Linked DNA regions of Homo sapiens: regions 1, 2, 4, 5, 6 and 7 are each linked to region 3. Evidence: fine-mapped QTL for protein levels in blood plasma. A gene starts in region 3. Each other region holds a variant in brackets. All regions are shown on one strand. Distances are from middle to middle.

Region 1 (4,067 bases), 530 kb after region 3:
AGGAAATGTATGTAAAGTGCTTCAGACAAGCCTGTCACATGGCTCCTGTTCCTTAATTTATCACAACTGTTATTAATAGTTGTTGAATAGGAAGTATTAAGGAGGGTCCATATTTCCCAGAGGTTTAACAGCCTCCTTCCCTGACCTCCTTCCCACGCCCACCTCCCAAGTCTAAGGCTCGGCCTGGACTTCGCAGCACGCCCCATCTATCAGCTTTTCTAAGGCCCTAGAGACCTCTGTGTCTCCAGATTCCGGGGTCTCCTTCAGTTCTCACGTGTACAATTCAGGACAGCAGAAGCCTCTCTCCTTCCTGTGCTCATCCCGGGAAGCACAATCCAAGCACACTATCTCCCAGTTCTCCACCTGCCCCTCCGGCTACTCCTTCTGTCTCTGTGTCTGGCTCATCTTCCTTTAGCCAGCCATTACATTTTGGGGTTCCCCAGGGCTTTGCCCTAGATCCCTTCTCTTTTCACTAGGCTCTCCTGGGGTGATCTCATCCACACCCACAGCTTCTATCACTGTCTTTTTTTTTTTTAAAGACAGGTCACCCTTTGTCACCCGGGCTAGAGCAACAAGAGTACAGTGACAGGATCACAGCTCACTGCAGCCTCGACCTCCTGGGCTCAAGTGATCCTCCCACCTCAGCCTCCTACTAGCTGGGACTACGGGCATGTGCCACCAGGCCTGGCTTATTTTTTTTGTATTTTTGGTAGAGACGGGGTTTCACCATGTTGCCCAGGGTGGTCTGGAACTTGTGAGCTCAAGCAATCCGCCCACTTCAGCCTTCCAAAGTGCTGGAACCGCAGGTGTGAGCCACTGCGCCCGGCCTCCATCACTGTCTTATAAGCAGAAACACAAGGGGTCATCCCTTACTGCTCTTTCCTCATCTAATCCACTCTTGAAGTTTATCAGCATAGCCAAGATGTTGAAAGTGTGGACTCTGGAGCCAGATGCCTGAATTCAAACCCTGGCTCGGTGATCTGTGGCTGGACTTAACCTTTTCAGTCCTTGGTTTCCTCATCTATAAACTGGGGATGAGAATAATAATACCTATAAGCTGCGTTAAACAAAAATTACGGGAGGCCATTGTTCTGGATTGAGCCCCCGCACTAGACCCAAGAGACCAGACAAAAATGAAGTCACTCATGCTAAATGCCACATAATCAAACTGAAACTTTTTTTTTTTCTGAGACGGAGTTTCACTGTTGTTGCCCAGGCGGGAGTGCAATGGCGTGATCTCAGCTCACCGCAACCTCCGCCTTCCGGGTTCAAGTGATTTTCCTGCCTCAGCCTCCCAAGTATCTGGTACTAAAGGCATGCAACACTATGCCCAGCTAATTTTGTATTTTTAGTAGAGACAGGGTTTCTTCATGTTGGTCAGGCTGGTCTTGAACTCCTGACCTCAGGTGATCCACCCGCCTTGGCCTCCCAAAGTGCTGGGATTACACGCCTGAGCCACCGCACTTGATCTTCAAACTGAAACTTTAAGGTAACTGATAGGTCCCAAAACAGACCACTTTTTCCTGAAAACAGGAGAGTCCAGTCTACCCAAGTAAGGAAGTCTCCTCTGCTTTAACCCTTATAAAAAAAAACCTGATGTGGGCCGGGCGCAGTGGCTCATGCCTGTAATCTCAGCACTTTGGGAGGCCGAGGCAGGCGGATCACGAGATCAGGAGATCGAGACTATCCTGGCTAACATGGTGAAACCCCATCTCTACTAAAAATACACACACAAAAAATTAGCCAGGTGTGGTGGTGGGCGCCTGTAGTCCCAGCTACTTGGGAGGCTGAGGCAGGAGAATGGCGTGAACCCGGAAGGCAGAGCTTGCAGTGGGCCAAGATGGCGCCACTGCACTCCAGCCTGGGTGACAGAGTGAGACTCTGTCTCAAAAAAAAAAAAAAAAAAAAAAAAAAAAAAAAAAAATCTGATGTTAACCAATCAGGTTTCTTTCTATTGTTCTGTTTCCTGGTTCCCACCTTACAAAACCCACTGTTCTGCTATTGCCCAATGGAAACTTGCATTCTATTTTGTAGAACGGAGGCTGCACCAATTCATGAATCACAAATTAAAGCCAATTGGCTCTATAAGTAAGTTTGCTGTAATTTGTCTTTTGCCACTTGTTATGGATGAACAAGCTTAATACTTATAAAATGCTTAGAGTGATGCCTGGCATACAGTATGAGCTATGTATGTATTTGTTAAGGAAATAAATTTTTAAAAAGCTTTAATGTTACCTCCAAAACACAGCTCAAGTGTACTTCTCTTCAATGCCCAAGACCCATGCCACCTCTCTAGTCTAGCTACTGGGCCCTGTGCTAAAACTACCAACTGGTCTACTGCATCCACTCCCGCCCCCTTCAATCTGTTCTCTACACAGTAGCCAGAATGAGCTTTCCAAAGGGCAAATCTATTCATGAAACAACTTTTCTCCTCAACCCTCATTTAAAATCCCTCCGTAGGCCGAGCACGGTGGCTGATGCCTGTAATCCCAGCACTTTGGGAGGGTGAGGTGGGCGGATCACGAGGTCAGGAGTTCAAGACCAGCCTGGCCAACATAGTGAAACCCCATCTCTACTAAAAATACAAAAATTAGCCAGGCATGGTGGCACATGCCTGTAGTCCCAGCTGCTCAGGAGGCTGAGGCAGGAGAATCGCTTGAACTGGGAGGCAGAGGTTGCAGCGAGCCAAGATAGCGCCACTGCACTCCAGCTGGGGCAACAGAGTGAGACTTTGTCT[C/CAAATA]AAATAAAATAAAATAAAATAAAATAAAATCCCTCCGTACTTCCTGATGCTTTGAGAGTCAAGATCTCCAATGTGAGGCTCTCCATGGCTGGCCCCATCCACCACCCATCAGTCCGCCCAGCTCACACCCACTCTCTGATTTCCTGCATGTCAGGCTGCCTGGAATGACCCTCCCTCTCTCCCACCTGGGCACTTTCTGAGACTTCTCTTTAGAAGCCTTCCCTTACTCTTCTCAAATTTACCTAGTTAACATTCATGCATCCTTCCCACCTTACCTTTAATGCCCCTTCCCCAGGGAAGCCTTCCCTGATGGCCCCATGCTGGTCTTGGTCTGCCTTTACACACACCCCTGAAGCACCTCTCCCCGACTGCACTTTTTCATAGTTGTACTCTTACATTCAATTGTATGATTAGCACCAGAGGGCAGACTTCTGGATCTCCAGCAAAGTGCCTGGCATATAGTAGGTGCTCAACACCTGAGTGAATGGCTTCTGTGAGAGCAGGAAGGTGAGTGAATGGAAATTTTTTCCTTAAGGCTTACAGGGGCAGCTCCGACCTAGAGACATCCGTTGCAACCTTTCATTCTCACACCCTTCCCAAGGCCGTCACGGTCCATATCTGCACCCCAGTCTGTGCTTATCACACAATACCAGGCCCTGAATACAGCTCTTTAGACCAGCCGTACTGTGAAGCTGACAGCCCTTTCTGCACCTGCAGATGTAACCATACCTGGGCTTCTCCAGGGATGGTCTAAGCCTAGGCTGAGCTCGCCAGGTGCAGTGACTCACAACTGTAATCCCTGCACTTTGGGAGGCCGAGGTGGGTGGATCACCTGAGGTTGGGAGTTCGAGACCAGCCTGACCAACATGGAGAAACCCCGTCTCTACTAAAAATACAAAATTAGCCAGGTGTGGTGGCACGCGCCTATCATCCCAGCTACTTGGGAGGCTGAGGCAGGAGAATTGCTTGAACCCAGGAGGTGGAGGTTGCAGTGAGCCAAGATTGCGCCATTTGCACTCCAGCCTGGGTGACACAGTGAGACTCTGTCTCAAAAAAAAAAAAAAAAAAAAAAAAAAAAAGACTAGGCTGAGCTCTACACAGAGACTATGGCTGTGACTCCCCACCAGGCCTGGGCTGGAATTGAGATTGCTCCAAGTCCTCCAGAAGGGCCCTTGGAAAGACCTGTGGTCCCAGCATCCTCTTTAGCCCCCCATCTCCCCTCTGTGTTTGTAAACTGTCCTACTGGGTCTTTTAGTGGCTTCCTTCTTCAGGACAAGAAAAATGCCCTTCTTTCCTCTCTCCTTCCCAAACAGCCTGACCTAGGGCTCTG
Region 2 (4,076 bases), 12 kb before region 3:
AGCAATCCTCCAGCCTTAGCCTCCCAAGTAGCTGGGACTACAGGGGCAAACCACCACATCCAGATAATTTTTGTTTTAATTTTTTAGAGACGTGGGTCTCACTATGTTGCTTAGGCTATTCTGGAACTCCTGAGCTCAAGCGATCCACCCGTCTGGGCCTCCCAAAGTGCTAGGATTACAGGTGTGGGCCACCATGCCCAGCCCACACTGGAATTACATTTGAGGCTAGGGGACGTGTAGGAAAATGTAGCTACGGTAGGCACAGAAAACTAAGTAAGCAAGGGCAGGAGAGGGGGCCAGGATCCAGGAAGAGCCAAAATCATACAAGAAAAGAAACAATGTTATGACCCTGCCTGGATTAGAAGTGAACACTATGTACATGATCGTCACAATCCACAACCGAGCACACGGATTGAACAGGAAGATTGGGCGGCAGGGTGAAAGGTTGCTCAGCGGGAGTATACAAAAGCCAAATCTCCCTGAGCCGCAGCAGGCCATGAATAGGTACGGCCTAAAACCAGTGCACAGAGAGGTAGCAGTACAGTATAAGCAAATCCCTTGGAAATATGGAAGTAAACTCCAGAGGAAACAGCCCAGACAGAGCCTTCTGAGAAAGGGAAGGGGGCAGGCCCCAGGGGAGAGGAGGGGCAGGACTGCTGTTTTGTTTTATGATTTTAGCACTATTTAACCTTTTTTTTTTTTAACTGTCAGCACATACTAATTTAAGAAAATAGTTATTAAAATATAAAATAAATCTATACTGAGAAGAAGGTCCTCTTGTTGCTTCTTGCGTCCTAAGAATCCACCCTCATCACTCCCAGCCGCAGGCACCTACACACACAGCCACAGGCACACTCACACTTACACATGCTCATCACAGACACCCACAAACAGCCCACAGTGACAGACAGGTACACATACATAATATACAAAATCATCTGACACAGGTGCGAACCCAGCGTCCATGACACACACACCCATTCCCAGAAACGCACAATTATATTAATAGATTCACCCCCAGACACACCGAGGCTTCCAAGAGCCTCCCGGAAACCCTGAGAGAAGAGCACTCCCTCCAGGCCTCTCCTCCCTGTGCCAGCACCCCAGAACTGCCCCAGGCCAAGGAGGTTGTCTCCAGGAGCTGCACCCTAATTGCTTTCTCTACTCAGCCCCCTGCTGAGTGCCCAGCCCTTAGGCTAAGCAGCCATTAATCCTCTTGCGCCCCAGTCTGTAGATGGGGCAGAAATGGGGTGGGGAAGGGCCCCATCTGGCAGCTGAGATGTGACTCATAAGGCCACTGTCAGCTTTTTCTTCCCTAAGTCATGGGAGAGTCCAGTTTCAGGAATGCTGTGGTCAGGCTGTGCATCCTGATACAATCCATTTGATGTCTCTGGGTCCAGGAGGGAGTAGGCAGCCTATGAAACGCTGAGATGCTGTGATTTTATGACCCAGTCTGGGCCCTGCTTCCATCCCCTCCCCGGGGATTCTTCTCTCCACCCTGTCCTCCGGGGCCAACCCCAAATGATATGTGATTTGCATGTAGGACAAGCACACCTGGGGCAGCTGGTGAGACCTCCCCCACCCCCACTTCGCTCCCCCTCCATGTTCCTCCAGCACTCACCACCACCCTGGTCCTGTTATCTGGCAGC[G/T]TGTCCATGGCCAGGGTGCCCCCACCCAGGTCCTGGCTCAGCTGGGTCCTGTCCGGCTCTGACACATGCCCAGGGCTCTCTCGGGCTCTCCGGTTCCAGCCCCGCACGGTCCCTTTGGCAGCCCATCCAGAGCCTGGGCCCTCATCGTGACCTGGGAGAAGGGGACAGAAACCTGAGTGCCAGCAGTCCGGAATGAAGATCAGGAGGGGAATCCAGCCCAGTTATTCTGCAAGGGCCCCAACACCATGCCACTGTAGAATTTGCAGACACTTGACTGACTACCAGGACAGGAGACACCCAATGTGTACTGAGAGTCACGTGCCCAGCTCCAGGCCAAGCACTTCGCACATATCCTTTTAATCCTCATGCCAGCTCTCCGCAGTAGTTAGGATGTTCTCCATTTTGCAAACAAGAATCAGAGGCTCAGAGGTTAAAAGTCACGCAGTGGGTTAGGCATGCAGGTAAGTTTCAAACCCAAGCTGATCTGCCTCCAAAGGGTGATTATTCTCAACCTCAGCTATACACTGGAGTCACCTGGACAGCTTCAAAAGTTCCTGATGTCTGGGTCCCACCCTAGAGATCTCTTGTAACTGGTCTATGGTGTAGCCTGGGCATTCAATTTCTTTTTCTTTTTCTTTTTTTGAAATGGAGTCTCGCTCTGTCACCCAGGCTGGAGTGCAGTGGCCCGAGCTCCGCTCCCTGCAAGCTCCGCCTCCAGGGTTCACGCCATTCTCCTGCCTCAGCCTCCCGAGTAGCTGGGACTACAGGCGCCCGCTACCGCGCCCAGCTAATTTTTTGTATTTTTAATAGAGACGAGGTTTCACCGTGTTAGCCAGGATGGTCTCAATCTCCTGACCTCGTGATCCACCCGTCTCGGCCTCCCAAAGTGCTGGGATTACAGGCGTGAGCCACCGCGCCTAGCCTCGATTTCTTAAAAGAGCCTCAGGGGAGATTTTGAGGAGTCTTGGACTTAACTCTGCAGGCAAGGGTGAGAACCATTGCCGTTGAGCCTTCCAAACCAGTTTCTTATTTCTCTGGCAGAAATGGCACATAATCCTATTTCCCAGTGGGGTCAGGGGACTAGAAGCCAGAGTTCTTTTCGTTCAGGGCTTCTCAACCTCGGTACTATTGACATTTGGACTGGATAATTCCTTTTCCAATTTTTTTATTGTGGCAAAATACACATAACAAAATTTGCCATCTAACCATTTCCAAGTGTACAATTCAGTAACATTAAATACATTCCTAATGTTGTATGACCATCACCACCATCTATCTGCATAACTCTTTTCACCTTGTAAAACTAAAATTCTGTACCCGTTAAATAATAACTCCCTATTCACCCCTGTTATTTTATTTTATTTAAGAGATGGGGCCTTGCTCTGTCACCCAGGCTGGGGAGTAGTGGTGCGATCATAGCTCACTGCAGCCTCCAACTGCTGGGCTCATGCGATCCTCCCACCTCAGCTTCCTAAGTAGCTGGGACTATAGGCATGCGCCACCATGCCCAGCTAATCTTTTTACTTTTTATAGAGACAGGGTCTCACTATTTTGTTCAGGGTGGTTGGTCTTGAATTCCTGGTCTCAAGCAATTTTCCTGCCTTGGCTCCCAAGGTGCTGGGATTACAGATATGAGCCACAGCGCGCAGCCTGTATCTATGATTTTGACTACTCTAAGTATCTCATATAAATGGCATCATACTATATTTGTCTTTTTGTGATTGGCTTATTTCACTTAGCATAATAAATTCAAGGTTCATTCATGTCGTAGCATATGGCAGAATTGACTTCCTTTTGAAGGCTGAATAATATTCCATTGTGTGGATATACCACATTTTGCTAACCCACTCAACTATCAATGGATGTCTGTTTTGCTTCCACGTTTTAGCTATTGTGAACAATGCTGCTACAAACATGGGTGTACAAATATCTCTTTGAGACCTGGCCTTCAATTCTTTTGGGTATATACCCAGAAGCGGAATTGCTGGATTGTATGGTAATTCTATTTCTAATTTTTTGAGGAATTGTCATACTGTTTTCCATATAAAATGTTTTCCATGTAAAATGACTGGACCATTTTACATTCCCACCAACCGTGCACATGGGTTCCAATCTCTCCACATTCTTGCCAATACTTGTTATTTTCTGTTTTTTTTATAGTAGCCATCCTAACAGGTATGAGGTTATATCTCATCGTTTTTATAAATTGGCATTTCCCTGATGATTAGTGATGCCGAACATCTTTTCATATGCTTGTGGGCCATTTGTATATCTTCTTTGGAGAAATGTCTATTTAAGTCTTTTTCCTGTTTTTAAATTGGATTGTTGGTTGGACTGGATAATTCATTGTTATGCGGGAACTGTCCAGTGCTCTGTAAGATGTTTAGCAGCCGCAGCCTTGGCCCCTGCTCACTAAATGCCAGTAGC
Region 3 (4,076 bases):
GTCAAAGCCAAGAAGACAGGATAGCCTCTACTTAGAGAAGTGATTCAAGTCTCTGCCTGCCCCACTCTTCCTGGTCTCCTCAACCGTCTACTACCCCAACCCTACTCTGAAGGGGCCGCCCTCAGCCAGGCCCGGGTCTGGCCACTATCTCCCAGCCCATCCTTGTTACCTCCCAATTCCCCCTTCCCCAGCCCTCTCCGTGGTTCACACAATCCAGCCAAAGGTTCAGATCCTCCCCTCATAAACTCTGTTACACCCAGAGTTCAGAAGATCACACCAGGTTGAGGATTCAAAGGAGCCCAGAAATTATTCATAACATATCCAACTCTCTCCTGTTTACCTTGATTTTTTTAAAGTATCAGTTACCCATAAAGACCCTAACAAATATGAAAAGGAAAGGCAATTATAAAAGATCCTTCATTATTCCACGCACAAGAGTCAAAGATTTTGCCAACAGCCTCACTTTATAAATGCAAAAATAGGTCCAGAGAGAGAAAGTAACTTGTCTAAAGTCACACAGCAAGTGAGATGGCGGGACTAGAAGCCACGTCTCTGGCCACCCTCTGTGTGGTCTCCCTGAAAATTGGTGGTTCTCACCAGCAGCTTCTCGGTTCGTCAGCTCCACTGCCCTCTGCCCATACTTCCCACTGTCAGCCTCCTTCCCCTCCCACCCCCAACATACTCTTCTTCTCAATAGGGACCCAGGTCTGTCTCAGCTACATGCTGGGACCATTAAAGTCAAGAACATTGCCACTGACACTGTGCCTGGTGCCAGCACACTCCTGAGACACAGCAGGTCAACCACAGCACTCACCTCAACAGCGCCTCCCTCACCCCACCTGAGGGGCACCCATGCCAATGATGCACAGGTATCTATCTTCTTAATCATCTCTGCTGAGGGGCCAGGCTGCAAATTACCCATCTCCCCAACCCCAGAGAAAGTCTAGGTGCTTAGGGGAGAACAGAGACTATGAAAATTATACCATGAGGGATTCCAGGTAGATCTCAGAAAGGACTTCCAGGTGGGAGAGATGAGTTTGGAGAACTGGTAGGGGGGAAGAGGAGTGTGCAGAATGGGACGCCTCCCTCCACCCCCTACCCCAGTGCCCCATCTAGAGCCAGAGTAGCTGAAAGCCAAAGGCTGCCAGGGCAAATGGGAGCAGGTGTGAGGAGGGGGACTCTTGAGGCTGGGGGTGCAGAAGCAGCAAGTTGCTTCTTCCTGGGCCCACTGCCTCTCTACTGACACCAAATAGGCAAGGGAAGGTGACCGAATGGCTGCTGCCTTCCCAGGCAGAGACGCTGTGTCCCCACCATCCCCCTGGCTGCTCCCACCTATCCCTAGCCTGGATCAGCTTTGGGGTCGGGGGTGTGGCAGAGAAGAGGAAAAGAAGGCATGGCTGGGGCAGGGGCCTCCCCAGGCTCCCATCTCATCAGAATTCAGCCTTGCCTGGGGTGATCAGGGGTCCTGATGACTCTCCCGCTGTCCCCTTTCAGAGCCCATGGCCACATAGAGCCCCCTCTCCTAAGGTCCCTCCAGTATCCTTCCAGGAGAGAAGGAGAGGTCCGGGCATCGGTGTCTCCACCGTCACTCACACACCCTATGTGTTTGGGAAAGTGGGGTCCCTATCCACCTGCCCACAGCCCACAGCTCTCCTGGCCTCCTGCGGACAATGCCCCCCTCGCGGACATCGCCAGGCCGTCCACACCTGCCCATGCCCACACCTGACTGCCCGTCCCTCCCCGCCCCCGGCCCACCCGGGCCGGCTCCCGCCAGTCCTACCTGCTCCGGGCTGGGGGCTCAGCGCCCGGGCAGCCTCCCTGAGCACCAGCACCAGGAGCCAGAGCTCGCCTCGCATGGTGGGTGCCCGGACCTGCCCCCGGCCTGCTTGCTGCCCCGGTCCTGACGAGGGAGGGGGCCCTGGCTCAGGCTGCGGCCGCGCGGTCCCCGGGGCTGGCGGAGGGGCGGGCGGCGAGGAGACGGCGGAGCGCGGGGCCGGGCGAGCCGGCAGGAGCGGCGAGAGCGCGAGCGGAGCTGGAGGCTGCGGCCTCCGGGAGCAGGCGGGGAGCTGGGGGGGCCGCTGGGTCGGTGGGGGTGGGGGGGAGCTGGGGCAGGGGGCGGGGCGGGGGGCGCGGCGTCGTTGGGGGCTCTCCCGGCGCCTGCCCTCAGCCCTAACGGAGCGCTCCCCTAGAGCTCTGCAGCCGCTCCCAAGGCAAGGGGTGCAGAGTAGGGGACAGGGCGGGAGCCCCTCGGGCTGAGAGAACCCCTAGAAGCATCAGCCGCCCCGCGCTCCTCACTGAGCTCCTGGCTCCCTTTCCCTCCTCCGTTCCGCCGGGAAAGCTGCAGAGAGAAGGCCCGAGGACTGGACCCCTGGAAGGGACAGGCGCCCCATCCCTGGGTCACGGGCCCCTGACTGTTCCCCGCCCCCAGCTCCTCCAAGCTCTGCGACTTCCTGAGCTGTTCTTCGGAATTCTGTGCGTCTCTGATGCTTTGTCCTCCAGCCCCCACCCCCAGAAATCTCCCCCTGCAGCAAAGACCCCCAGCTTTTCTCCCCAAGAGGGGCCTGAATCCCACCCCCCTTCCATGACTCCACCTTATCCCTCCACCCCCCATTTCCAGCACCGATTTGCCCCCCAAGCCTAGCAGACGTGAGGGTGGAGGGGGCCTGGCTACCCCTTACTCTGCAACAGTCTGGACCCCTCCCCACGAGTAGGTAACCCAGGCCTCCTGCCTCTCTGGGGCCTCCAGGCCTACTCAGGGCCAGACCCAATCAATCTTCAGAGCCAGCCCCAGACGAGGAAATGGCTCACCCCACCTGTCACCACCTTCTGACAGGCTCTGGGGATAGATAATCTTTTTATTTTTTCTTCCAGGACAGAATAAAAATACCCGCAATGTAGGATATTTAATAGACGGCAAGGAATCAGGTCAGGACACGAAGATGCCTCTTCCCTCCCCTGACCTACTTCGTTCTTGTGACGGCAAGGAGCTGGGGCGCTGGAGAGTGGGAGACGGGGTGAGGGGGCATCCTGGCTTCTAGTGGGCTGGGGCCTAGGGACTAGAAAACCGCGGAGAGGAAGGGTGCGAACGCTGAGCGCCATTGGAGAAATTTTCCAGGAGGAGGGATATGGGCGGGGACAGGAGAAGGTACACTGTGGGCTGGAAGAGACGGATTCCGTGGCACTGAGGTTAAAAAAAAAAAAAAGAAAAGAAAAGAAAAAAAAACACCTAAGAAAGGAAACAACTAAAGGCTCTCTAATCTCTTAGAACGCCGGTTCCTCCTTCCGCCGGGCCCAGAGTCCCAGAGACTACCTCCTCCAGCCCTAAACCCAATGTCCCCTTACCGTGGAACAAGGCAAGGCCGGTCTGTAAATTCTTCTTGATGTCTAATTTAAATCCCAACTTGGCGGACTCTCAAACAGAATCAGATAGGCAGCTACCTCCAGCTGCAGCTACTTGCTGCCCTCAAGTGGCCACGTGACGAGCCACAACCCTCTTGTCCTGCGGGTTTCCTCTTTCCCCAGCCTGCCCACCCCCTGTCTCCGACCTCCTGCCTTCCTCGAGGTCAAGGTGAGAAGTCTCGGGACGGATTCCAGCTCCAGCCCCGGCGTCTTTGCACATTCCTCCATCTGGGGTACCTCGTGGTCTGTCTTACAAGAAGAGCTCAGGCTGAAACATAAACTTGTAAATAGTAGAAGCAAATGTGTAAATTTTAACGTAAGCCTCTAGAACTTGAGATCGTAATCACCTGCAGGGTGTGTGTGTGTGTGTGTGTGTGTGTGTGTGTGTGTGTGTGTGTGTATTTTGTTTGTTTTTTGAGACAGGTTCTCGCACGTTGCCTAGGCTGGAGTGCAGTGCTGCGATCATAGCTCACTGCAGCTTCCAACTCCTGGACTCAAGCGATGGGGAGCGTATATGAAAACACAGATTTCTGGACTCCACCCTCAAGTTTCTAATTCATTAGGTCTGGGATGAGGCCCGAGCGTACCCAGGTAATGCTGCTGGTCCCAGGACCACATTTTGAGAGCCACTGCTGTTGAATCCCCAGTTCCTTTCAGTCCCTCACTGCTCCTCGTCT
Region 4 (4,076 bases), 370 kb after region 3:
TTTTGTTTTTTGAGATGGAGTTTCGCTCTTGTTCCCCAGGCTGGAGTACAATGGCGCAATCTCAGCTCGCCGCAACCTCTGCTTCCCAGGTTCAAGCGATTCACCTGCCTCAGCCTTCCCAAGCTGAAATTACAGGCACGTGCCACCATGCCCAGCTAATTTTGTGTTTTTAGTAGAGACAGAGTTTCTCCATGTTGGTCAGGTTGGTCTCGAACTCCCGACCTCAGGTGATCTGCCCACCTCGGCCTCCCAAAGTGCTGGGATTACAGGCATGAGCCACAGTGCCTGGCCATTTTTTTGTATTTTTAGTAGAGATGGGGTTTCACCATGTTGGCCAGGCTGGTCTTGAACTCCTGCCCATCTTGGCCTCTCAAAGTGCTGGGATCACAGGTGTGAGCCACCGTGCCTGGCCTGTTTGTTTGTTTGTGTGTTTTGAGACGGAGTTTCACTCTTCGCATCCAGGCTGGAGTGCAGTGGTGTGATATTGGCTCACTGCAATCTCCGCCTCCCAGTTTCAAGCAATTCTCCTGCCTCAGCCTCCCAAGTAGCTGGAATTACGCCACCATGCCCGGCTAATTTTTGTATTTTTAGTAGAGACAGGGTTTCATCACGTTGGCCGGGCTGATCTTGAACTCCTGGCCTCAGGTGATCCGCCCGCCTTGGCCTCCCAAGGTGCCGGGATTACAGATGTGAGCTACTGCTCCCAGCCTTTTTTGTTTTTTCCGAGACGGAGTCTCGCTCTGTCGCCCAGGCTGGAGTGCAGTGGCGTGATCTCGGCTCACTGCAACCTCCATCTCCTGGATTCAAGCAGTTCTCCTGTCCCAGCCTACTGAGTAGCTGGGATTATAGGCGCAGGCCACCACGCCCGACTAATTTTTTTGTATTTTTAGTAGAGACAGGGTTTCACCATGTTGGCCAAGGTGGTCTCAAACTCCTGACTTCAGGTGATCTGCCTGCCTCAGCCTCCCAAAGTGTTGGGATTACAGGCATGAGCCACCACTCCCAGCCTTTTTTTTTTTTTTTCCAATTGTAGAAATGGAGTCTCACAATGTTGTCCAGACTGTCTCAAACTCCTGGGCTCAAGTGATTCTCCCGCCTCAGCCTTCCAAAGTCATGGGATTACAGGCAGGAGACACATGCTTGGCCTCCCTCTGGTTTTTGCTCTTAACCATTCCTCCAGCTGTAATCATGCATGTCTCTGGTGACCATGTATATCTCACACTTGCAGAGATAGTCCCAGTTTTTTGGGGTTTTTTTTGTTATTATTTTTTTTGAGACAGAGTTTCACTCTTGTTGCCCAGGCTGGAGTGCAGTGGTGTGATCTCGACTCACCACAAGCGTTTCCTGCCTCAGCCTCCCGAGTAGCTGGGATTACAGGTATGCGCCCCCATGCCTGGCTAATTTTGTATTTTTAGTAGAAACAGAGTTTCACCATATTGGTGAGACTGGTCTTGAAGTCCCGACCTCAGGTAATCTGCCTGCCTCGGCCTCCGAAAGTGCTGGGATTACAGGCGTGAGCCACTGAACCCGGCCAACAGTCCCAGTTTTAAATGGTTTGCATCACTGCCAGTTTTTTTTGTTGTTTTTGTTTTTTTCTGAGACAGGGTCTCTCACTCTGTCACCCAGGCTGGAGTGCAGTGGCACAATCTCAACTCACTGCAACCTCCACCTCCCGGCTTCAAGCGATTCCCGTGCCTCAGCCTCCTGAGTAGCTGGATTACAGGAGCCCGGCACCACAGCTGGCTAATTTTTGTATTTTTAGTAGAGATGAGGTTTCACCATGTTGACCAGACTTGTCTCCAATTCCTGACCTCAGGTGATTCGCCTGCCT[C/T]GTCCTCCCAAAGTGCTGTGATTATAGGCGTGAGCTACCGCACCCAGCCAGATTACTGAATTTTGATGTAAGAAATAAGATCTTTCGGTCGAGCGCGGTCGCTCACACCTGTAATCCCAGCACTTTGGGAGGCCGAGGTGGATGGATCACCTGAGGTCAGGAGTTCAAGAGAGCCTGGCCAACATGGTAAAACCCCGTCTCTCCTAAAAATACAAAAAATTAACCAGGTGTGGTGGTGTATGCTTGTAGTCCTGGCTACTCAGGAGGCTGAGGGAGGAGAATCGCCTGAACTCGGGAGGTGGAGGTTGCAGTGAGCCGAGATTGTGCCAGTGCATTCCTGCCTAGACCATAGAGTGATACTCCATCTCAAAAAATTAAAGTAACATAAAAGAAATATGATCTTTTAATATGTCTCTATTTAATTAAAATCTTATGAATGCCTCTGTATTGTATTGGAGCTTCAGAGATTCATATCCCACATTATAGCACATAAAAAGTCTTTTATCTGGCCTGGCACGGTGGCTCATGCCTGTAATCCCAGCACTTTGGGAGGCTGAGGCAGGCAGATCACCTGAGGTCATGAGTTCGAGACCAGTTTGGCCAACATAGTGAAACCCCGTCTCTACTAAAAAATACAAAAATTAGCCAGGCGTAGTGGCGTGTACCTGTAGTCCCAGCTACTCAGGGAGACTAAGGCAGGAGAATCACTTGAACCTGGGAGGCGGAGGTTGCAGTGAACTGAGATTGCACCACTGCACTCTAGCCTGGGCAACAGAGCAAGACTCTGTCTCAAAAGAAAAAGAAAAAAAAAGTATTTTATCTTTGAATTTGTCAGTGACAGTATTATAGCTTTAATGTCAAATTTTGGAGGTCATTTTCTTAAGAAAGACTACATGTCTTAAAAATGGATAGGATGTTAGTTCATGAGTAGGTAGTAATTCTAAATCTGATTGCTCCAAAGAAATGTCCAAATTCATTTATTTTTTTGAGACAGACTCTTGTTCTGTTGCTCAGGCTGGAGTGCAGTGGTGTGATCTCGGCTCACTGCAGCCTCCACCTCCCAGGTTCAAGCAATCCTCCTGCTTCAGCCTCCTTAGTAGCTGGGATTACAGGCACACACCACCACACTTGGCTAATTTTTGTATTTTTAGCAGAGACCAGGTTTCACCATGTTGCCAGGCTAGTCTCGAACTCCTGACCTCATGATCCGCCTGCCTCTACCTCCCAAAGTGCTGGGATTACAGGCATGAGCTGCCGCGCCCAGCCAAATTCATTTATTACACTAGAATGTTGATACATTGAATATGACTTGAAACATATAAGGGTTTTACTGAAATTTGGGAACTCCTATTATAGAGAGATTTATAGTAAGATTTGACCTACTTGGTCTGATTGTATGAGAGATTCTGGACTAAGTTATACGTAGTGCTGAACTCCACAGATGAGCAAGTTGATATCCAGTCATAGAAATTCTGTGGGCAGAAAGGGGAAAGAACTAGTCTTTGGTCCTCACAAACCAAATTACACATAAGTTGATTTTGCACAGAGATGTTTTGATCATGATACATGGTTCCATGGTTTAAGTCACCGCCTTTCCTCGACCTTCTGTATACATTAACAAGCCAGCCATTACTGTCCTCGTCTTTATTCCCTACTGAAACTTGACCAATACTGTTCTCCTTTTTTGTTGTTATGCCAAGGAAAGACAGTATTTATATGGGAATTTATATAGCTGGTCTGTACCTAGTATTAGCAAGATCCTCCTTTCTCACTATGTAACTTTCGTACTTTTATTTCCTCAGACTACCATCTGCCATGATTTATTTTACACTGCTGTTACCTACTTTTACTAACTTTTTTGGTTATTTTTGTTTTCCTTATTCTTTACATTTCCCACAGTCTTTGCCTTCCCATTTTAATCCTTTGCTCCTCCATTCATTCACTGCTGCATTCCCTTACATATTTCCCCTTTGCTTTGTCTTTTTCCAGCCTCCCCCACTGGCAGGATTGCCATGAGTTGTGGAGTAAGAAACGGCGACGTCAGCGACAAAGTGGTGTTGTAGTCGAAGAGCCACCTCCATCCAAAACTTCTCGAAAAGAAACTACCTCAGGGACAAGTACTGAGCCTGTGAAGAACAGCAGCCCAGCACCACCTCAGCCTGCTCCTGGCAAGGTGGAGTCTGGGGCTGGGGATGCAATAGGTCAGTGCCAGAATGGGGCCTTTGTGCTTTTGCTAAGCGTATTT
Region 5 (4,076 bases), 650 kb before region 3:
ACCTGGGCATCGAATTGCTGCCCTCCTGCAGTGCCACAGACCCTGCGGCCTCTCTTTGCCGAGTCTCACCACTGCTAGTCATCCAGGCTGGGGACCGACACTCTCTGGAGACCAGCGATGCCACGCCCAGAAGCTTCTCTTTATCTCTAACTCCTGCCTCAGTCACCCCAATGGGCCGCCTCTTCCTGCTTAAGAAACCGGGGCCCTAAGTCCTGTTTGCAGGGCCTGTGGCCCTCTCATGGCAGAGGACAGATGATTTACATGCTCAGAGACAGATGAGGGCCACTCCCTTTGTGGCTGCAGCCACTGACTCCTCCCCCCGCCATGGTTGTCCCTCCCTTTAGTTTTAGCATTTCTGTTCGTCTCTGACAGAGGCACACAGGAGCTCCCTAGTCACCAGAGGCAGGCTCAGGAGGGGCCAGAAGACATGGGGGTGGGACGGCAGAGAGGGACCCCATGTCTCTTCTAATCACCCGCCGCCCCCCGCGCCCTGTGTGTCGTGTGTGGTCGCCCATCTTGCTTTTCTCACCTTGTGCAGGGGGAGGGGTCCGGAGAGGGGGGCGTCTAACTTGCCTGCCAGAGAGTGTGGATTAACCGCACCTGCCCACTACCCTGTGGGACCCCAGGAGGCCCTTGGACCAACCTGCTCCTTCTTTAGCCTTGGAGGGGACCCACCAGGACGTGTTTCTGGTTCCTTCTCCACCCCAGTGATATTAAGGGAGTGGGACCCAAGTCCCATAGAAATCATGCTTTTGGTCTCCTTCATAACTGGGTGATAACTGGGGACCCTGCCCATGAGGCAGGGTGACCCCAGGTCCGGAGGTGGAACCTATCAAGGCTCTAATCACCAGCCCACTCCACCTCCTGCGTCCCACCCACTTCATTTTTGCCCTTTTATCCATTATTCATGTGGTCCCTCTTCTCTGTTGTGTGCTCGGGGGTGGATGTAGGGCACCCACCTCTCTGTGCACTGTGTGGTCTCCATTTCTCCAGAGCATCTGTGATTTGCTGTGTTTCACTGTGGTGGTTTCCATGGACTGCACCTGATATTTGGCATTTTCTCTCCAGTGCTTCAGAGTAACAGGGACGGGCGGGGAAGGGGAGAGGAACCAGGCTCAAAGACAATGCCCCCTTGCCCTTAGCCATCGGTAAATGAGGGGCCAGTGGCTGGCAGCCTGATGTCACTTCCTGCCTCTAGAGGAAGTGGCAGTTAACATCATTTTCTCCTCCATCCCTCTCCCATAGATGGACATCAGATGTCCATCATACTCCTAGGGCCTGGGGAGATCTCATGTTTCAGAATTCCCTGGTTTCTGAAGCCTTTGAGGAGAGGGAATTGTGTGCATAAGACTCAGCTTTCTTTTTTCCTGATGCAACTTTCATTTTTTTTTCTGTCTTTCACCAACAGATTCTACCACCTGTAGTTCAGCCAAGTCCAAGGTACGTATGAAGGCAATTCTGAAGGCTTGATCCCTGTACAAGGCAGCCCACTTTGGTTTTTGTTCAAGGGAATTGAGGGAATGGCAGTTGGACCATGGGGAAAGTTGATGGTCCCTGGGAGGGAAGGCAGGAGGTACCGAGTGCCCAAGGTAAGCTGAGAAATTGCTTACCTTGGCAGTGTTTGGTGAGGCATCTGCTGTAGTAGAAGGACCTGGCCTGGGAGTTATGTGGCTAGGAGGCAATGTCACTCAGTAGTTAGAAGCACAGACTCTGCAGTCAGACAGTCCTGGGTTTGAGTTCTGGCTCCACCATTTAGTAGTTTGGGACATTGGGCAAGTTACTTAACCACTTTCTGATCCTTAGCTTCCTCATCTATAAAATGGGAATATCAGTAAATCTGTGGGGTGCTATAATAAATAAAACAGATATCCTTTAAGGTCTTTGGAGAGCCTAAAGCAAGCAGAAGGAAATAAAGAGAGGAGCAGAAATCCATGAAATAGAAAACAGTTGAAAAAAAGCAATGAAACCAAAAGCTGGTTCTTTGAAAAAAAATCAGTGAAATTGATAAACCTCTAGCCAGACTAACAGAATAAAAAGAAAGATGGCACAGATTATCAGTATCAGGGATGAAAGAGGGACATCACTACAGACCCCTAAGTTATTTTTTATTTTTTATTTATTTATTTTTTTTGAGACGGAGTCTTGCTCTGTCACCCAGGCTGGAGTGCAGTGGCACCATCTCGGCTCACTGCAAGCTCCGCCTCCCAGGTTCACACCATTCTCCTGCCTCAGCCTCCCGAGTAGCTGGGACTACAGGCGCCCACCATCACGTCCAGCTAATTTTTTGTATTTTTAGTGGAGACGGGGTTTCACCAGGTTAGCCAGGATGGTCTTGATCTCCTGACCGCGTGATCCGTCCCCCTT[GGCCTCC/G]GAAAGTGCTGGGATTACAGGCGTGAGTCACTGCGCCTGGCTATAGACCCCTAAGTAATTGAATTTATGGGCATAAAGTTGCCCATAAATTCAATAACTTAGGTGAAATAGACCAATTCTTTGAAAGATTCAGACTGCCAAAACTCACTTAAGAAAAAATAGATAACCTGAATAGTCCTATACCTCCTAAGGAAATTGAATATGTAATTTAAAATCCCCCAACAATGAAAACTTCAGGACCAGATGGTTTCACTGTTAAATTCTACCAAATATTTAAGGAATTTTTTAAATTTTTAAACAATTTACTTTAATAATTTTAAAATATTCTAAATAGAAAATAGTATAATTTTAAATATTGATATATTTAAATAGTTATTTAAATATTTGAATTATTTAAATGTTATTTAAATAGTTATTTAAGAAATAATACCAATTCTCCACTATCTCTTTTGGAAGATAAAAGAGGGTGGCTGGGCACCATGGCTCACGCCTGTAATCCTAGCACTTTGGGAGGCTGAGGTCGGATCTTGAGATCAAGAGTTAAAGACCAGCCTGGCCAACATGGTGAAACCCCATCTCTACTAAAAATACAAAAAAATTAGCTGGGTGTGGTGGCATGCGCCTGTAATCCCAGCTACTCAGGAGGCTGAGGCAGGATAATTGCTTGAACCTGGGAAGAGGAGGTTGCAGTGAGCCGAGGTCGTGCCACTGCACTCCAGTCTGGGCGACAGAGCGAGACTCCGTCTCAAAAAAAAGAAAGGAAAATAGAAGAGGAGGAAACACTTTCCAACTCATTTATGAGGCCAGCATTACCCTGATACCAAAACCTAACAATGCTTTTGAAAAAGATAGGGCTAATTCATTTGATAATACCACAAATACTTGTTGAACGTCTACTTTATATCAGTACTGTGCTGGGTACTGAAAATATAAATAATGAGCCAAACAGATAGGTTCCTGCCCTCACAAAGCTTATCTTCTAATGAGAGACAGACACTAAGCTTATGAAGAAATAGACTATCTGTCTGGCAGGTTTGGAGGCACAGTGGAGGCAGAAACCAGATGGAATGAGCTAATAAAGTGAGGGAGGGAAAAGCGCATACGTAGACCACTCTTGTGAGAAGTCCGATTGTGAAGAGATATTTACAGAACAAAAATGGAAAAATATGTGGCTTGAGGGAAACTTTCATTAAAAGATGAAAGCAGCCAGGCATGGTGGCTCACGCCTATAATCCCAACACATTTGGAGGCCGAGGCAGGAGGATCCCTTGAGCCCAGGAGTCCGAGACCAGCCTGGACAACATAGTGAGACCTCAACTCTACAAAAAATGCAAAAATTAACCAGGCATGGTGGGGCATGCCTGTAGTCCCAGCTACTTGGGAGGCTGAGGCAGGAAGATCATTTGAGCTTGGGAGGTTGAGGCTGCAGTGATGAGCCGTGATCATGCCACTGCACTCCAGCCTGGGCAACAGAGCAAGATCCTATCTCAAAAACAAACAAACAAACAAACAAAAAAAGACGAAAGCACATATTTACTTGCCAATGGGAATGATCCAGGTGAGAGACAGAGAGAGAGAGGAAGAGCTGGGCCCAGAGCCCGTGAAGCAGCAGTAGCCTGTGCTCCTAGCAGATGCATCCCCAGGTGTAGTAGGAAGAGAGGGAGGTGGCAGGGGCACACTGGCAGGCAGTGTTGGCAGCAGGTCAT
Region 6 (4,076 bases), 84 kb before region 3:
GCCTCTCAACAGAATCCACCTGCAGTTCCCTGCTAGGTATGTCTCAAGGAGCCCTCTAGCCACCCGACTTGTCTTTAATGCCTATAAAATCCAGTTCAGAGGAGGAAAAATATTTATCAGGCAAGTCCTGCCTTTGGAGGTATGTACAGGCACTGACATCAGAACAGGGCAGTGAGTAAACCCGGCACCGAACAGGCCATCAGAATAGGGAGCCCCACATGGTAAATGTGGCTGCGCATAGCAAGCTCACCCAGGGAAGGCTGGGCTGCAGGTTGGGGTAAAGCCCTTGATGCAGGCTGTAACATGTTTTGATGCAGAAGTTATTGGTTCTGAGTAGAAAGGGCAAGGTAAGAGAGCAAAGCCTAAAAATGCAGTTTCCCCCTTGAGTTCTTTTCTCTCCTCTTATTTGACTTCCCTCCCATGATAACATGCCCCAAGGGCTGAGAGCCACTATACTGTGTTTAACAGATGGAGAGAATACCTTCTTTAGGCTTTCAGAGCTACAGAAGCTGGGGCTAAAATGCCAACTCTATAGCCATGAGGATCTGCTTTCTTTTTTTTTTTTTGAGACGGAGTCTCGCTCTGTCACCCAGGCTGGAGTGCAGTGGCACTATCTGAGCTCACTGCAACCTCTGCCTCCCAGGTTCAAGTGATTCTCGTGTCTCAGCTTCCTGAGTAGCTGGGATACAGGCAAGCGTCACCACACCCAGCTAATTTTTTGTATTTTTAGTAGAGACATTTTAATTATGTTGGCCAGGCTGGTCTCAAACTTCTGACTTCAGGTGATCCGCCTGCCTCAGCCTCCCAAAGTGCTGGGATTACAGGCGTGAGCCACTGCACCTGGCCAAGGACCAGCTTGTGAGTCTAGGGAACCTGGAATGCAGCAGCCCCAATCTTGACTTTAGTTAACCTGTGTCATATGCAGGGGCTTTAAAGGTGGCCAGGAGCAGGGCATCTGGCTATCTGGCTATCTCCAGGTAGTGGGTCGGGGAGGCTCTGAGACTGCTACAGAGCAGACCATTGACAGCCTGTAACTGAGTCCAAATTCATTCTGCTTGCTGCGTCATAGCCAATACGTTGAGAGACAAGGAGTTGGAGCAAGGAAAGGGACTTTATTTCGGAGAGCCAGCAAACCAAGAAGATGGTGGACTAATGTCCTAAAGAACCGTCTTAAAATTATGCGGGCTTTGCCTTGTCTTTTATGTTTAGGTCGGGGGAAAGGAAGGGGCTGACAACCGCAGACATCTGGACACCAGCAAGGGTCCAGGGGAGGTTTGCAGAACTTCTTTGTCCTTGGCTAACAGTCTGTCATGTGACAATAGCCAAACCTCCTCATTCCTATAAATCTTTAACAAAAACAGTTAGCTGTTTACATGCTTCCCCTTTAATCCCAGAGTTAGTTTTGCAAACGGCATGATTCCTGTTTTTGCGTTTTATGTCAGTGCTCTAAAGTTATCCTAGCCTAGGTGCAGGAATAGGTAAAGGCCCCTTAAACAAAAATGGAGTTAGTTATGTTAGTTCTTCTGCTGTTTCATGGTTACAAGACACAGAAGAGAACCCTTGCATCAAAACAGGATGAGATTAGGTTGTTGTTCCTATAAAAAATCCATGTGGTTGTTTTTTGGCCCCCTCTTCAATATTCGGGGTGTGCTGACGAAGCGAGCAGCAGCTCTGGAGCCATAAACCACCATCTCATCTCAGCCCAGGGCATGCTGGGAGAGGCCAGGAAAAGTCACTTCTCTTCTTTGCTTTAACTGTCTTTTCTGTGGCCTCAAAGTCTTCAAAGGGGAGACTTGGTGTTCTCAGCACTGCTCAGCCTCCATGAAGCCCTCCTTCTCATGGCCCGAGGGCTCCACCTCCGCATAGGTGGAATGGTCAGGGTGGCTGCGAAACTTCATGGCTGGCCAGTGGTGAGGTCTA[C/T]GCTGCAGAAGGCACAGAGGCAAAGTCAGTGGGCATGCCCCCGCCCCCATGGGGACCCCACACTCCTGAGCGACAGAGCCAACCAAGACTGTCTCTTATAAGGGCCCTGGGGCACTTGGGCCTACCAGGAGCCACACAACTGACCTTCAGGGACCCTCTCCCTAAAATGTTCCGTGCTGTGATCCCCCAACCACTGGGAAACCTGCCGAAAGCTAGAGTGTGGAAGGAGGACACTTTATCCTTCACTGTGTGGTCTGCAGAACTCACAGCTGAAAGGTTCAGCAATACACCAAGTGGAGACCTAGGACTGCAATGTGAGGGAGTGGCTCAGAGATGGCTGGCATGATGCTTGAGGCTCTGAAAATGCCAAGATAACCCTCCAAGGTAGCACAGGATCCACATCAGAGTCAACAGGGGGCTTATTAAAATGCAGATTCTGGCCTGTGCAGTGGCTTATGCCTGTAATCCCAGCACTTTGGGAGGCCAAGATGGGCAGATCACTTGAGGCCAGGAGTTCAAGACCAGCCTGGCCAACATGGTGAAACACTGTCTCCACTAAAAATACAAAAATTAGCTGAGTGTGGTGGCACGTGCCTGTAGTCGCAACTACTCAGAAGGTTGAGGCACCAGAATTGCTTGAACCCAGGAGGCGGAGGCTGCAGTAAGCCAAGATTGTGCCACTGTACTCCAGCCTAGGCGACAGAGTGAGACTGTCTCGAAATAAATAAAATGCAGATTCCTGGGCCTGCCTTAGACCTGCCCTATCAGAATCCCTGTGGCCCAGGGATCTGCAGTTCCCAGGTGTTACCCAGGTAGGCTAAGACTTCAGAATGACTAAGCCTCCTAAGAAACTGGGGGAATGACCTAGGCCTGTGGGTTAATGAGGCTGGTGGGCTTGTGACCCACGTGGAAGAAACTAGGGTCACAGAGGCACCACTGCTGCACTCTGTGGGGAACTCGTAAGAAGCCAGAAGTGGAGGACTGGGGGCAGGAGCTGCTGAGCTCTGCAGCCCCGAGTGAAGGGGGCTGAGCCTCACATCCCATGCTGCCCCTCAGGCTGGCTCTTCAGAATTGAGACATTCAAAACTTAGTATCCTCAATTAAAGCTCCCAGAGGGCAGCTCTTATCATTATTTGGCTTGTCTATTTTATTTTTATTTCTATTTTAGAGATGGGGTCTCCTCTATTGCCCAGGTTGGAGTGCAGTGGTATGGTCAGGGCTCACTGCAGCCTCAAACCACTGGGCTCAAGGGATCCTCCCACCTCAGCTTCCCAAGCGGCTGGGACCACAGGTACGTGCCACCACGCTGGGCTAATTTTTTAAATTTTTGTAGAGACGGGGTCTCACTCTGTTGCCCAGGCTAGTCTCAAACTCCTGTGCTCAAGTAATCTTGCCTTGGTTTCTCAAAGTGCTAGGATCTTAGGAAGGAGCCACTGCACCTGCCCCTCAATTTTAGCCTTAAAAGCAGGTATCAGTAGGCAAAAGAGGCAGAGACCCTGGTTCCCTCATGGCTTTGAGTAAGTACTGAGCCTGGCATTTGGGCATGAGAGACCATAAATCACTGGAGATAGGCTGCACAGCCACTAGATGAGCACTATGTGGCACTGTGGCCTTCTTTCTTTCCTCTGGGGATTTTTTCTGATTTCACAAATGGGGGAACAAAAGCAGAGGGGCTGTTCCACAGGACAGGAGGGCCGAGGGAGTTCTGAGGTGCTGATTTATCAGGGTGCAGGACTTAACGGGCGCCAGCCATCTCGAAATGTGCCAGGATGGGGTGGATGAAGTTTTCTCAGGTATGTGGCAGGGGAGAGGGAGAAGGGGAGAGGCAGGGACCGAATGGCCCAGGAGACGCCGACGCAGAAGCAGACAGGAGCCCTGTGGCCACAGATGACACGGACCTCGATGAAGAAGAGCGCAGCATTGGATGTGGGGTGGCCATTGATGTAAATTCCAGCCAGGATGATGGCCGCCACGAGGAGGACTGCCAGCACGATGCCCACGATGGTGCCCAGGTGCACAGGAGTGCCCTTTGTCTTGGGGGACAGGTTGTTCTGAAGGCCTGTGGAGAGATCATTAGGGCAGACAGGGGCTGCAGGGGAGCAGGGAAGGTCGAACCATGGGGTCTTGGGTTCTAACAAAGTCTCAGAGATGAAAGC
Region 7 (4,000 bases), 250 kb after region 3:
TAGGGTTACAGGTTGCACATAATATTACAGATTTATACGAAAGGCAGTGACGTATAATGAAAAACAATAATGAACATGGATTCAAAATACCGAAATTGGAGCATATCACTTTCTAACTTATGGGTTCTTATCTCCAGGCACTGTTTAAACTGTAAAATGGTATCTGAATGTCAGTTAATGTTACCACTATGATTGTTTTTTAATGTTAGGCTTTTTAATAAACCCATTAAGACAGAATTTTTCTCCAACAGTACTACATCCTCATAAAGAAGCTACTAAGAGCATGACAAAGTGGAGAGGCTTAACTGAAGCAAATCTAAGCTTAGATTCAAGGGCTAGTCTAGATATTTAAACATTAATCTCACTAAGTGTTAAGATAATGTCAGTTATGGCACTTAAAATGAAGGCAGTCAGGTGTGGTAATCACACCTGTAATTCTAACACTTTGGGAGGCCGGCGAAAGGATTGCTCAAGCCCAGCAGTAGCAAATACAAAATAAAATAAAATGGATGAACTTTGGAAAAGCTCTTTTCCACAAATTTTATAGACTTTTTGCTAGTCATGCTAAAAAAAAAAGCAGGATGACAGTGGAGTCAAAAAAAAAAAATGCAGATTGGAATCCTGGTTCCCCCACTTACTAGGTGTGCAATTTGAACACCTTACTTAACCTCTCAGGCCTTCACTTTCCTCAAGTGTAAAACAGAATCGTAAAACTAGAGGTAACTAGCCGGGTGCGGTGGCTCACGCCTGTAATCCCAGCACTTTGGGAGGCCGGCGGGCGGGGGGGGGGGGGGGGTTGGATCACGAGGTCAGGAGCTCGAGACCAGCCTGGCCAACATGGTGAAACCCCGTCTCTACTAAAAATACAAAAATTAGCCGGGCATGGTGGCAGGCGCCTGTAATCCCAGCTACTCGGGAGGCTGAGGCAGTAGAATCGCTTAAAACCTGGGAAGTGGTTGCAGTGAGCCGAGATCGCACCATTGCACTCCAGCCTGGGGACAAGGGCAAGATTTCATCTCAAAGAAAAAAAGCAACAAAACAACAACAACAACAAAAAGCTAGAGGTAACTGAGGTAAAACATCTGGCTCAGTGTCTGTCATGCAGGAAGTATTCAATAACCATCGTTAAATTTGAAAGACAATTACTAAAATTTGCTGCAAAGTTTACCATAAATAACATAATTAAAATATCTGAATGGTAAGTTTTAATTGATTAACACAATTCAGCACATACTATGTTGACCTACAAGGGTTATTACTGTATACATTTAATGCCATGGTGACACAGCAAGAAAAACATGAATTTTCACATCTCTTGATCTCTTAAATAGAGATTCTTTATTCAGTAGTCATCTACTTTGGCTATTCCACAGGATGCTACACATCTGGCTAACAGGTACTCACCCTCGTTGTTTTTTGTTTTTTTTTTGGAGACGGAATCTCTCGCTCTGTCGCCCAGGCTGGAGTAAAATGGCACAATCTCGGCTCAATACAACCTCCGCCTCCTGGGTTCAAGTGATTCTCCTGCCTCAGCCTCCTGAGTAGCTGGAATTACAGGTGCCCACTACCACGCCCGGCTAATTTTTGTATTTTTAGTAGAGACCGGGTTTCACCAGGTTGGTCAGGCTGGTCTTGAACTCCTGACCTCGTGATCCACCCACCTCGGCCTCCCAAAGTGCTGGGATTACAGGCATGAGCCACCTCGCCCGGCCCCTTGGTTTTAAATTAAAAAAATTTTTTTTCTATAGCTCTAACCCAGAGTGGGAGATTTAAGGTGTGTGGCCTCCAGTTACAACATATAAAAGCATACCTACAAAAGGATTTCAATGAATCAACTATCTGAAAATCATAGAGCTTCAGTTATCTTCTCCAAGAAAAATAAACCTTACGTAGCCACAATTTGAAATTAGCTATTATGTGATATAAAGATTTCATGCATCCACAAAAATTCTCAATGAGATCTGCTATCTGCTTACAGTTGTAAAATTATCAGTTCTTTAAGAAGCAGACTGTAATCTTGAGGATTTAAAATATCATTTGATGTAAATGTTTAGATCTGCTTTATTTACGTATCTTTTATTGAAAGTAAATATTTAAAATATTTTCAACAAATAAGCAATAAATTTATTTACTACTTCCTAAGAAGCCAATTACTAATTGTCTCAGTCCTTGTAAATTAGGTCAATAAAGAGGTAAATGGTTTTAAGAAGTACTCAATGAACTTCATTAACACATATCATTTCTAGCCATTCTCATCTGTATTCCGGCATGGAACACTTCACATCATATTAAGTGAATAGCTTTTAGTTTATAAACAAACACTTATTTAATCATGAAACCGTCCAAGAAGGACTCCCCACCTTATTCTTTTTTTTACCTTCTCAGATCATATTTAGAAAGATTTCGTTGCCAGCTACATCAGCTACAAGTTAAAAAGAAACCTCTTAATAC[A/G]GCAACAAATTTCCTTATTACTTTATTATAGTATGCCACCCCTACAGAGATTGTAAATTAAAGTATAAGATAATTATAAAAATACAAAATAGCAATGTAATTTTACACCACATACAAGAGAATACTTTCCAAAAATTATTCAATCTAAAATGAACAGCAAACTGATAAAGAGCTAATTCCACAGGCAAAAGACTGTCCCCGACTCAAATCTTCAGTATCTGGAACTGCCTTTCAAGATTCCTGTTAACTGCTGAACGTCTATTCAGCAATTTTAGTGACATTCTGGGTTTTTACGGTACTACTGAATACGAAACCATCATAAATTAACTTTATTGGGGCTCTGTACATTAGGGCCATCCAATGTCCTATTAAACACCAAATAATATATTCCATAACATTTTCTTCTAGTGATCAAGTTAAATACTAAAACTCTAAGAAGGCCAATTCTTTGATTTTCTCCACTCCTGAAGTGCAACAGTAACACTGAAGCTCTGAACTTAAACTGCACCCAAAACACTTCCTATCTTGATCTTCGTGGATCAATTCAAATTATTTCCCAGTTCGCATAATAAGAAATCAAAGAATAGATTAAACTGACAACCCTTAAAAGTTTTCACACCCTGAACCTAGTTGTCGAGTTTCTTAAACTTTTGTCTCGCCGTCTTACAATTTCATCTCTCAAATGGAGATGAAGAAAAACACCGAGTGAGATTGTCCACTGAGCTGTGAGTGATCCCAGGTCAGCCTGGTTCTCTGCCAGAAAAGACCAGGTGACATTTACTCTTCCTGTAGAAGTTTCTTTCTCTTGACCCTCAAGGAACCTTCCAGTATATTGTTATACTACTGTAATTCATCAGTAGTTACAATATTTCACTTCCCAAAGGAATCTCTTCCTTGCAAGATGACTACTCTCTAAAGACGCTTTCAAGACCGTCCACTCCTCAATTCCAGGACAGTAAACCTCCCTCGCTAGAGGAGAAAAAGTTCCTGAAAGACAGACCGGAATGGATTTGCTGAACTTTCGTCCCAATCTCAAAGCATGTAGACATCCAAGGGTTCCCAAGGAACAATGAGCTACAGAAGTACAGACTAAACGGGAAAGCAGAGGAAGTATCAGAACAATACCCAAACCAAACACAGCACCGAAAACCCGTGGTAGCCTCTATCATCCCAAACTACCGTCCCCACTTCCCTAGTTTCACCAAGGTCTCAAACTCGGAGAAATGGTACCCATCCCCTAATTTCCTCCCTCAACAGACAACAAACGCGTCATGAAGGTAGCAGCGAGAAAAGCAGCAGGCTCTGGTGGACCGGAGCCGTGATGGCTGGGTGGAAGGAGGCAAGCCAAGGGTTGTGTAAAGAATGGAAAGCTGAGCGATCCTGGAGGAGGGTGGAATTAGGGCGCCCGAGCTAATCCCCCGCGGGGGCCCGCTGGTGGGAAGAGACGGGGGGCGAACCGGCGAGGGGACTGGGGGCACCGGGCTGCGCTGGGCTTCTGGGTCGCAAGAAAGGGGAGCGGAGTCTGGCAGCCCCGCCAGTGGGTGGGTGA

Which allele goes with the higher level. Positions count from the first base shown, and alleles are read on the strand shown. Strength reflects both the effect of a copy and how common the allele is. Not every link is listed here.
As copies of CAAATA replace C in region 1, the plasma level of the protein whose gene starts at base 2,056 in region 3 goes down (moderate association).
As copies of C replace T in region 4, the plasma level of the protein whose gene starts at base 2,056 in region 3 goes down (moderate association).
For the plasma level of the protein whose gene starts at base 2,056 in region 3, G is the low allele of the variant in region 5 and GGCCTCC is the other (strong association).
In carriers of allele A in region 7, the plasma level of the protein whose gene starts at base 2,056 in region 3 tends to be higher than with G alone (moderate association).

Evidence for each region. PIP is the posterior inclusion probability: the model's chance that the variant is causal. Protein levels are from antibody-based Olink assays in UK Biobank. Linkage for the fine-mapping came from a reference panel and not from the study's own genotypes, which makes the PIPs less certain.
Region 1: its variant is fine-mapped to the plasma level of the PLXDC1 protein (UK Biobank, PIP above 0.99).
Region 2: its variant is fine-mapped to the plasma level of the PLXDC1 protein (UK Biobank, PIP 0.92). The variant lies in the coding sequence of PLXDC1. If it changes the protein, the assay may bind it differently, which can mimic a change of level.
Region 4: its variant is fine-mapped to the plasma level of the PLXDC1 protein (UK Biobank, PIP above 0.99).
Region 5: its variant is fine-mapped to the plasma level of the PLXDC1 protein (UK Biobank, PIP above 0.99).
Region 6: its variant is fine-mapped to the plasma level of the PLXDC1 protein (UK Biobank, PIP above 0.99). The variant lies in the coding sequence of PLXDC1. If it changes the protein, the assay may bind it differently, which can mimic a change of level.
Region 7: its variant is fine-mapped to the plasma level of the PLXDC1 protein (UK Biobank, PIP 0.98).

Annotation. Positions count from the first base shown.
Region 1 is chr17:39,680,338-39,684,404 of GRCh38, forward strand. All of the region lies in intron 3 of PGAP3 (post-GPI attachment to proteins phospholipase 3), which reads right to left. Among named protein-coding and RNA genes, the nearest start is that of PGAP3, 5.7 kb to the right of the region's middle. The variant C/CAAATA (reference allele first, on the strand shown) is at 2,738.
Region 2 is chr17:39,138,033-39,142,108 of GRCh38, forward strand. PLXDC1 (plexin domain containing 1) reads right to left here. Exons shown (of 14, transcript NM_020405.5): 2 at 1,622-1,800. Among named protein-coding and RNA genes, the nearest start is that of PLXDC1, 12 kb to the right of the region's middle. The variant G/T (reference allele first, on the strand shown) is at 1,650.
Region 3 is chr17:39,149,582-39,153,657 of GRCh38, forward strand. It overlaps PLXDC1 (plexin domain containing 1), which reads right to left and starts at 2,056. Exons shown (of 14, transcript NM_020405.5): 1 at 1,781-2,056. The coding sequence starts at 1,856. RefSeq lists an enhancer at 3,560-3,709.
Region 4 is chr17:39,520,854-39,524,929 of GRCh38, forward strand. It overlaps CDK12 (cyclin dependent kinase 12), which reads left to right. Exons shown (of 14, transcript NM_016507.4): 12 at 3,821-4,032. Among named protein-coding and RNA genes, the nearest start is that of CDK12, 61 kb to the left of the region's middle. The variant C/T (reference allele first, on the strand shown) is at 1,832.
Region 5 is chr17:38,499,189-38,503,264 of GRCh38, forward strand. ARHGAP23 (Rho GTPase activating protein 23) reads left to right here. Exons shown (of 24, transcript NM_001199417.2): 23 at 1,409-1,440. Among named protein-coding and RNA genes, the nearest start is that of ARHGAP23, 73 kb to the left of the region's middle. RefSeq lists enhancers at 1-404, 405-929. The variant GGCCTCC/G (reference allele first, on the strand shown) is at 2,365.
Region 6 is chr17:39,066,038-39,070,113 of GRCh38, forward strand. It overlaps PLXDC1 (plexin domain containing 1), which reads right to left. Exons shown (of 14, transcript NM_020405.5): 13 at 3,819-3,979; 14 at 1-1,922. The coding sequence ends at 1,803. It also overlaps the pseudogene RDM1P5. Among named protein-coding and RNA genes, the nearest start is that of LINC02079, 41 kb to the left of the region's middle. The variant C/T (reference allele first, on the strand shown) is at 1,921.
Region 7 is chr17:39,397,261-39,401,260 of GRCh38, forward strand. The region is part of intron 1 of FBXL20 (F-box and leucine rich repeat protein 20); the gene reads right to left. Among named protein-coding and RNA genes, the nearest start is that of FBXL20, 2.4 kb to the right of the region's middle. RefSeq lists silencers at 3,619-3,911, 3,976-4,000. The variant A/G (reference allele first, on the strand shown) is at 2,452.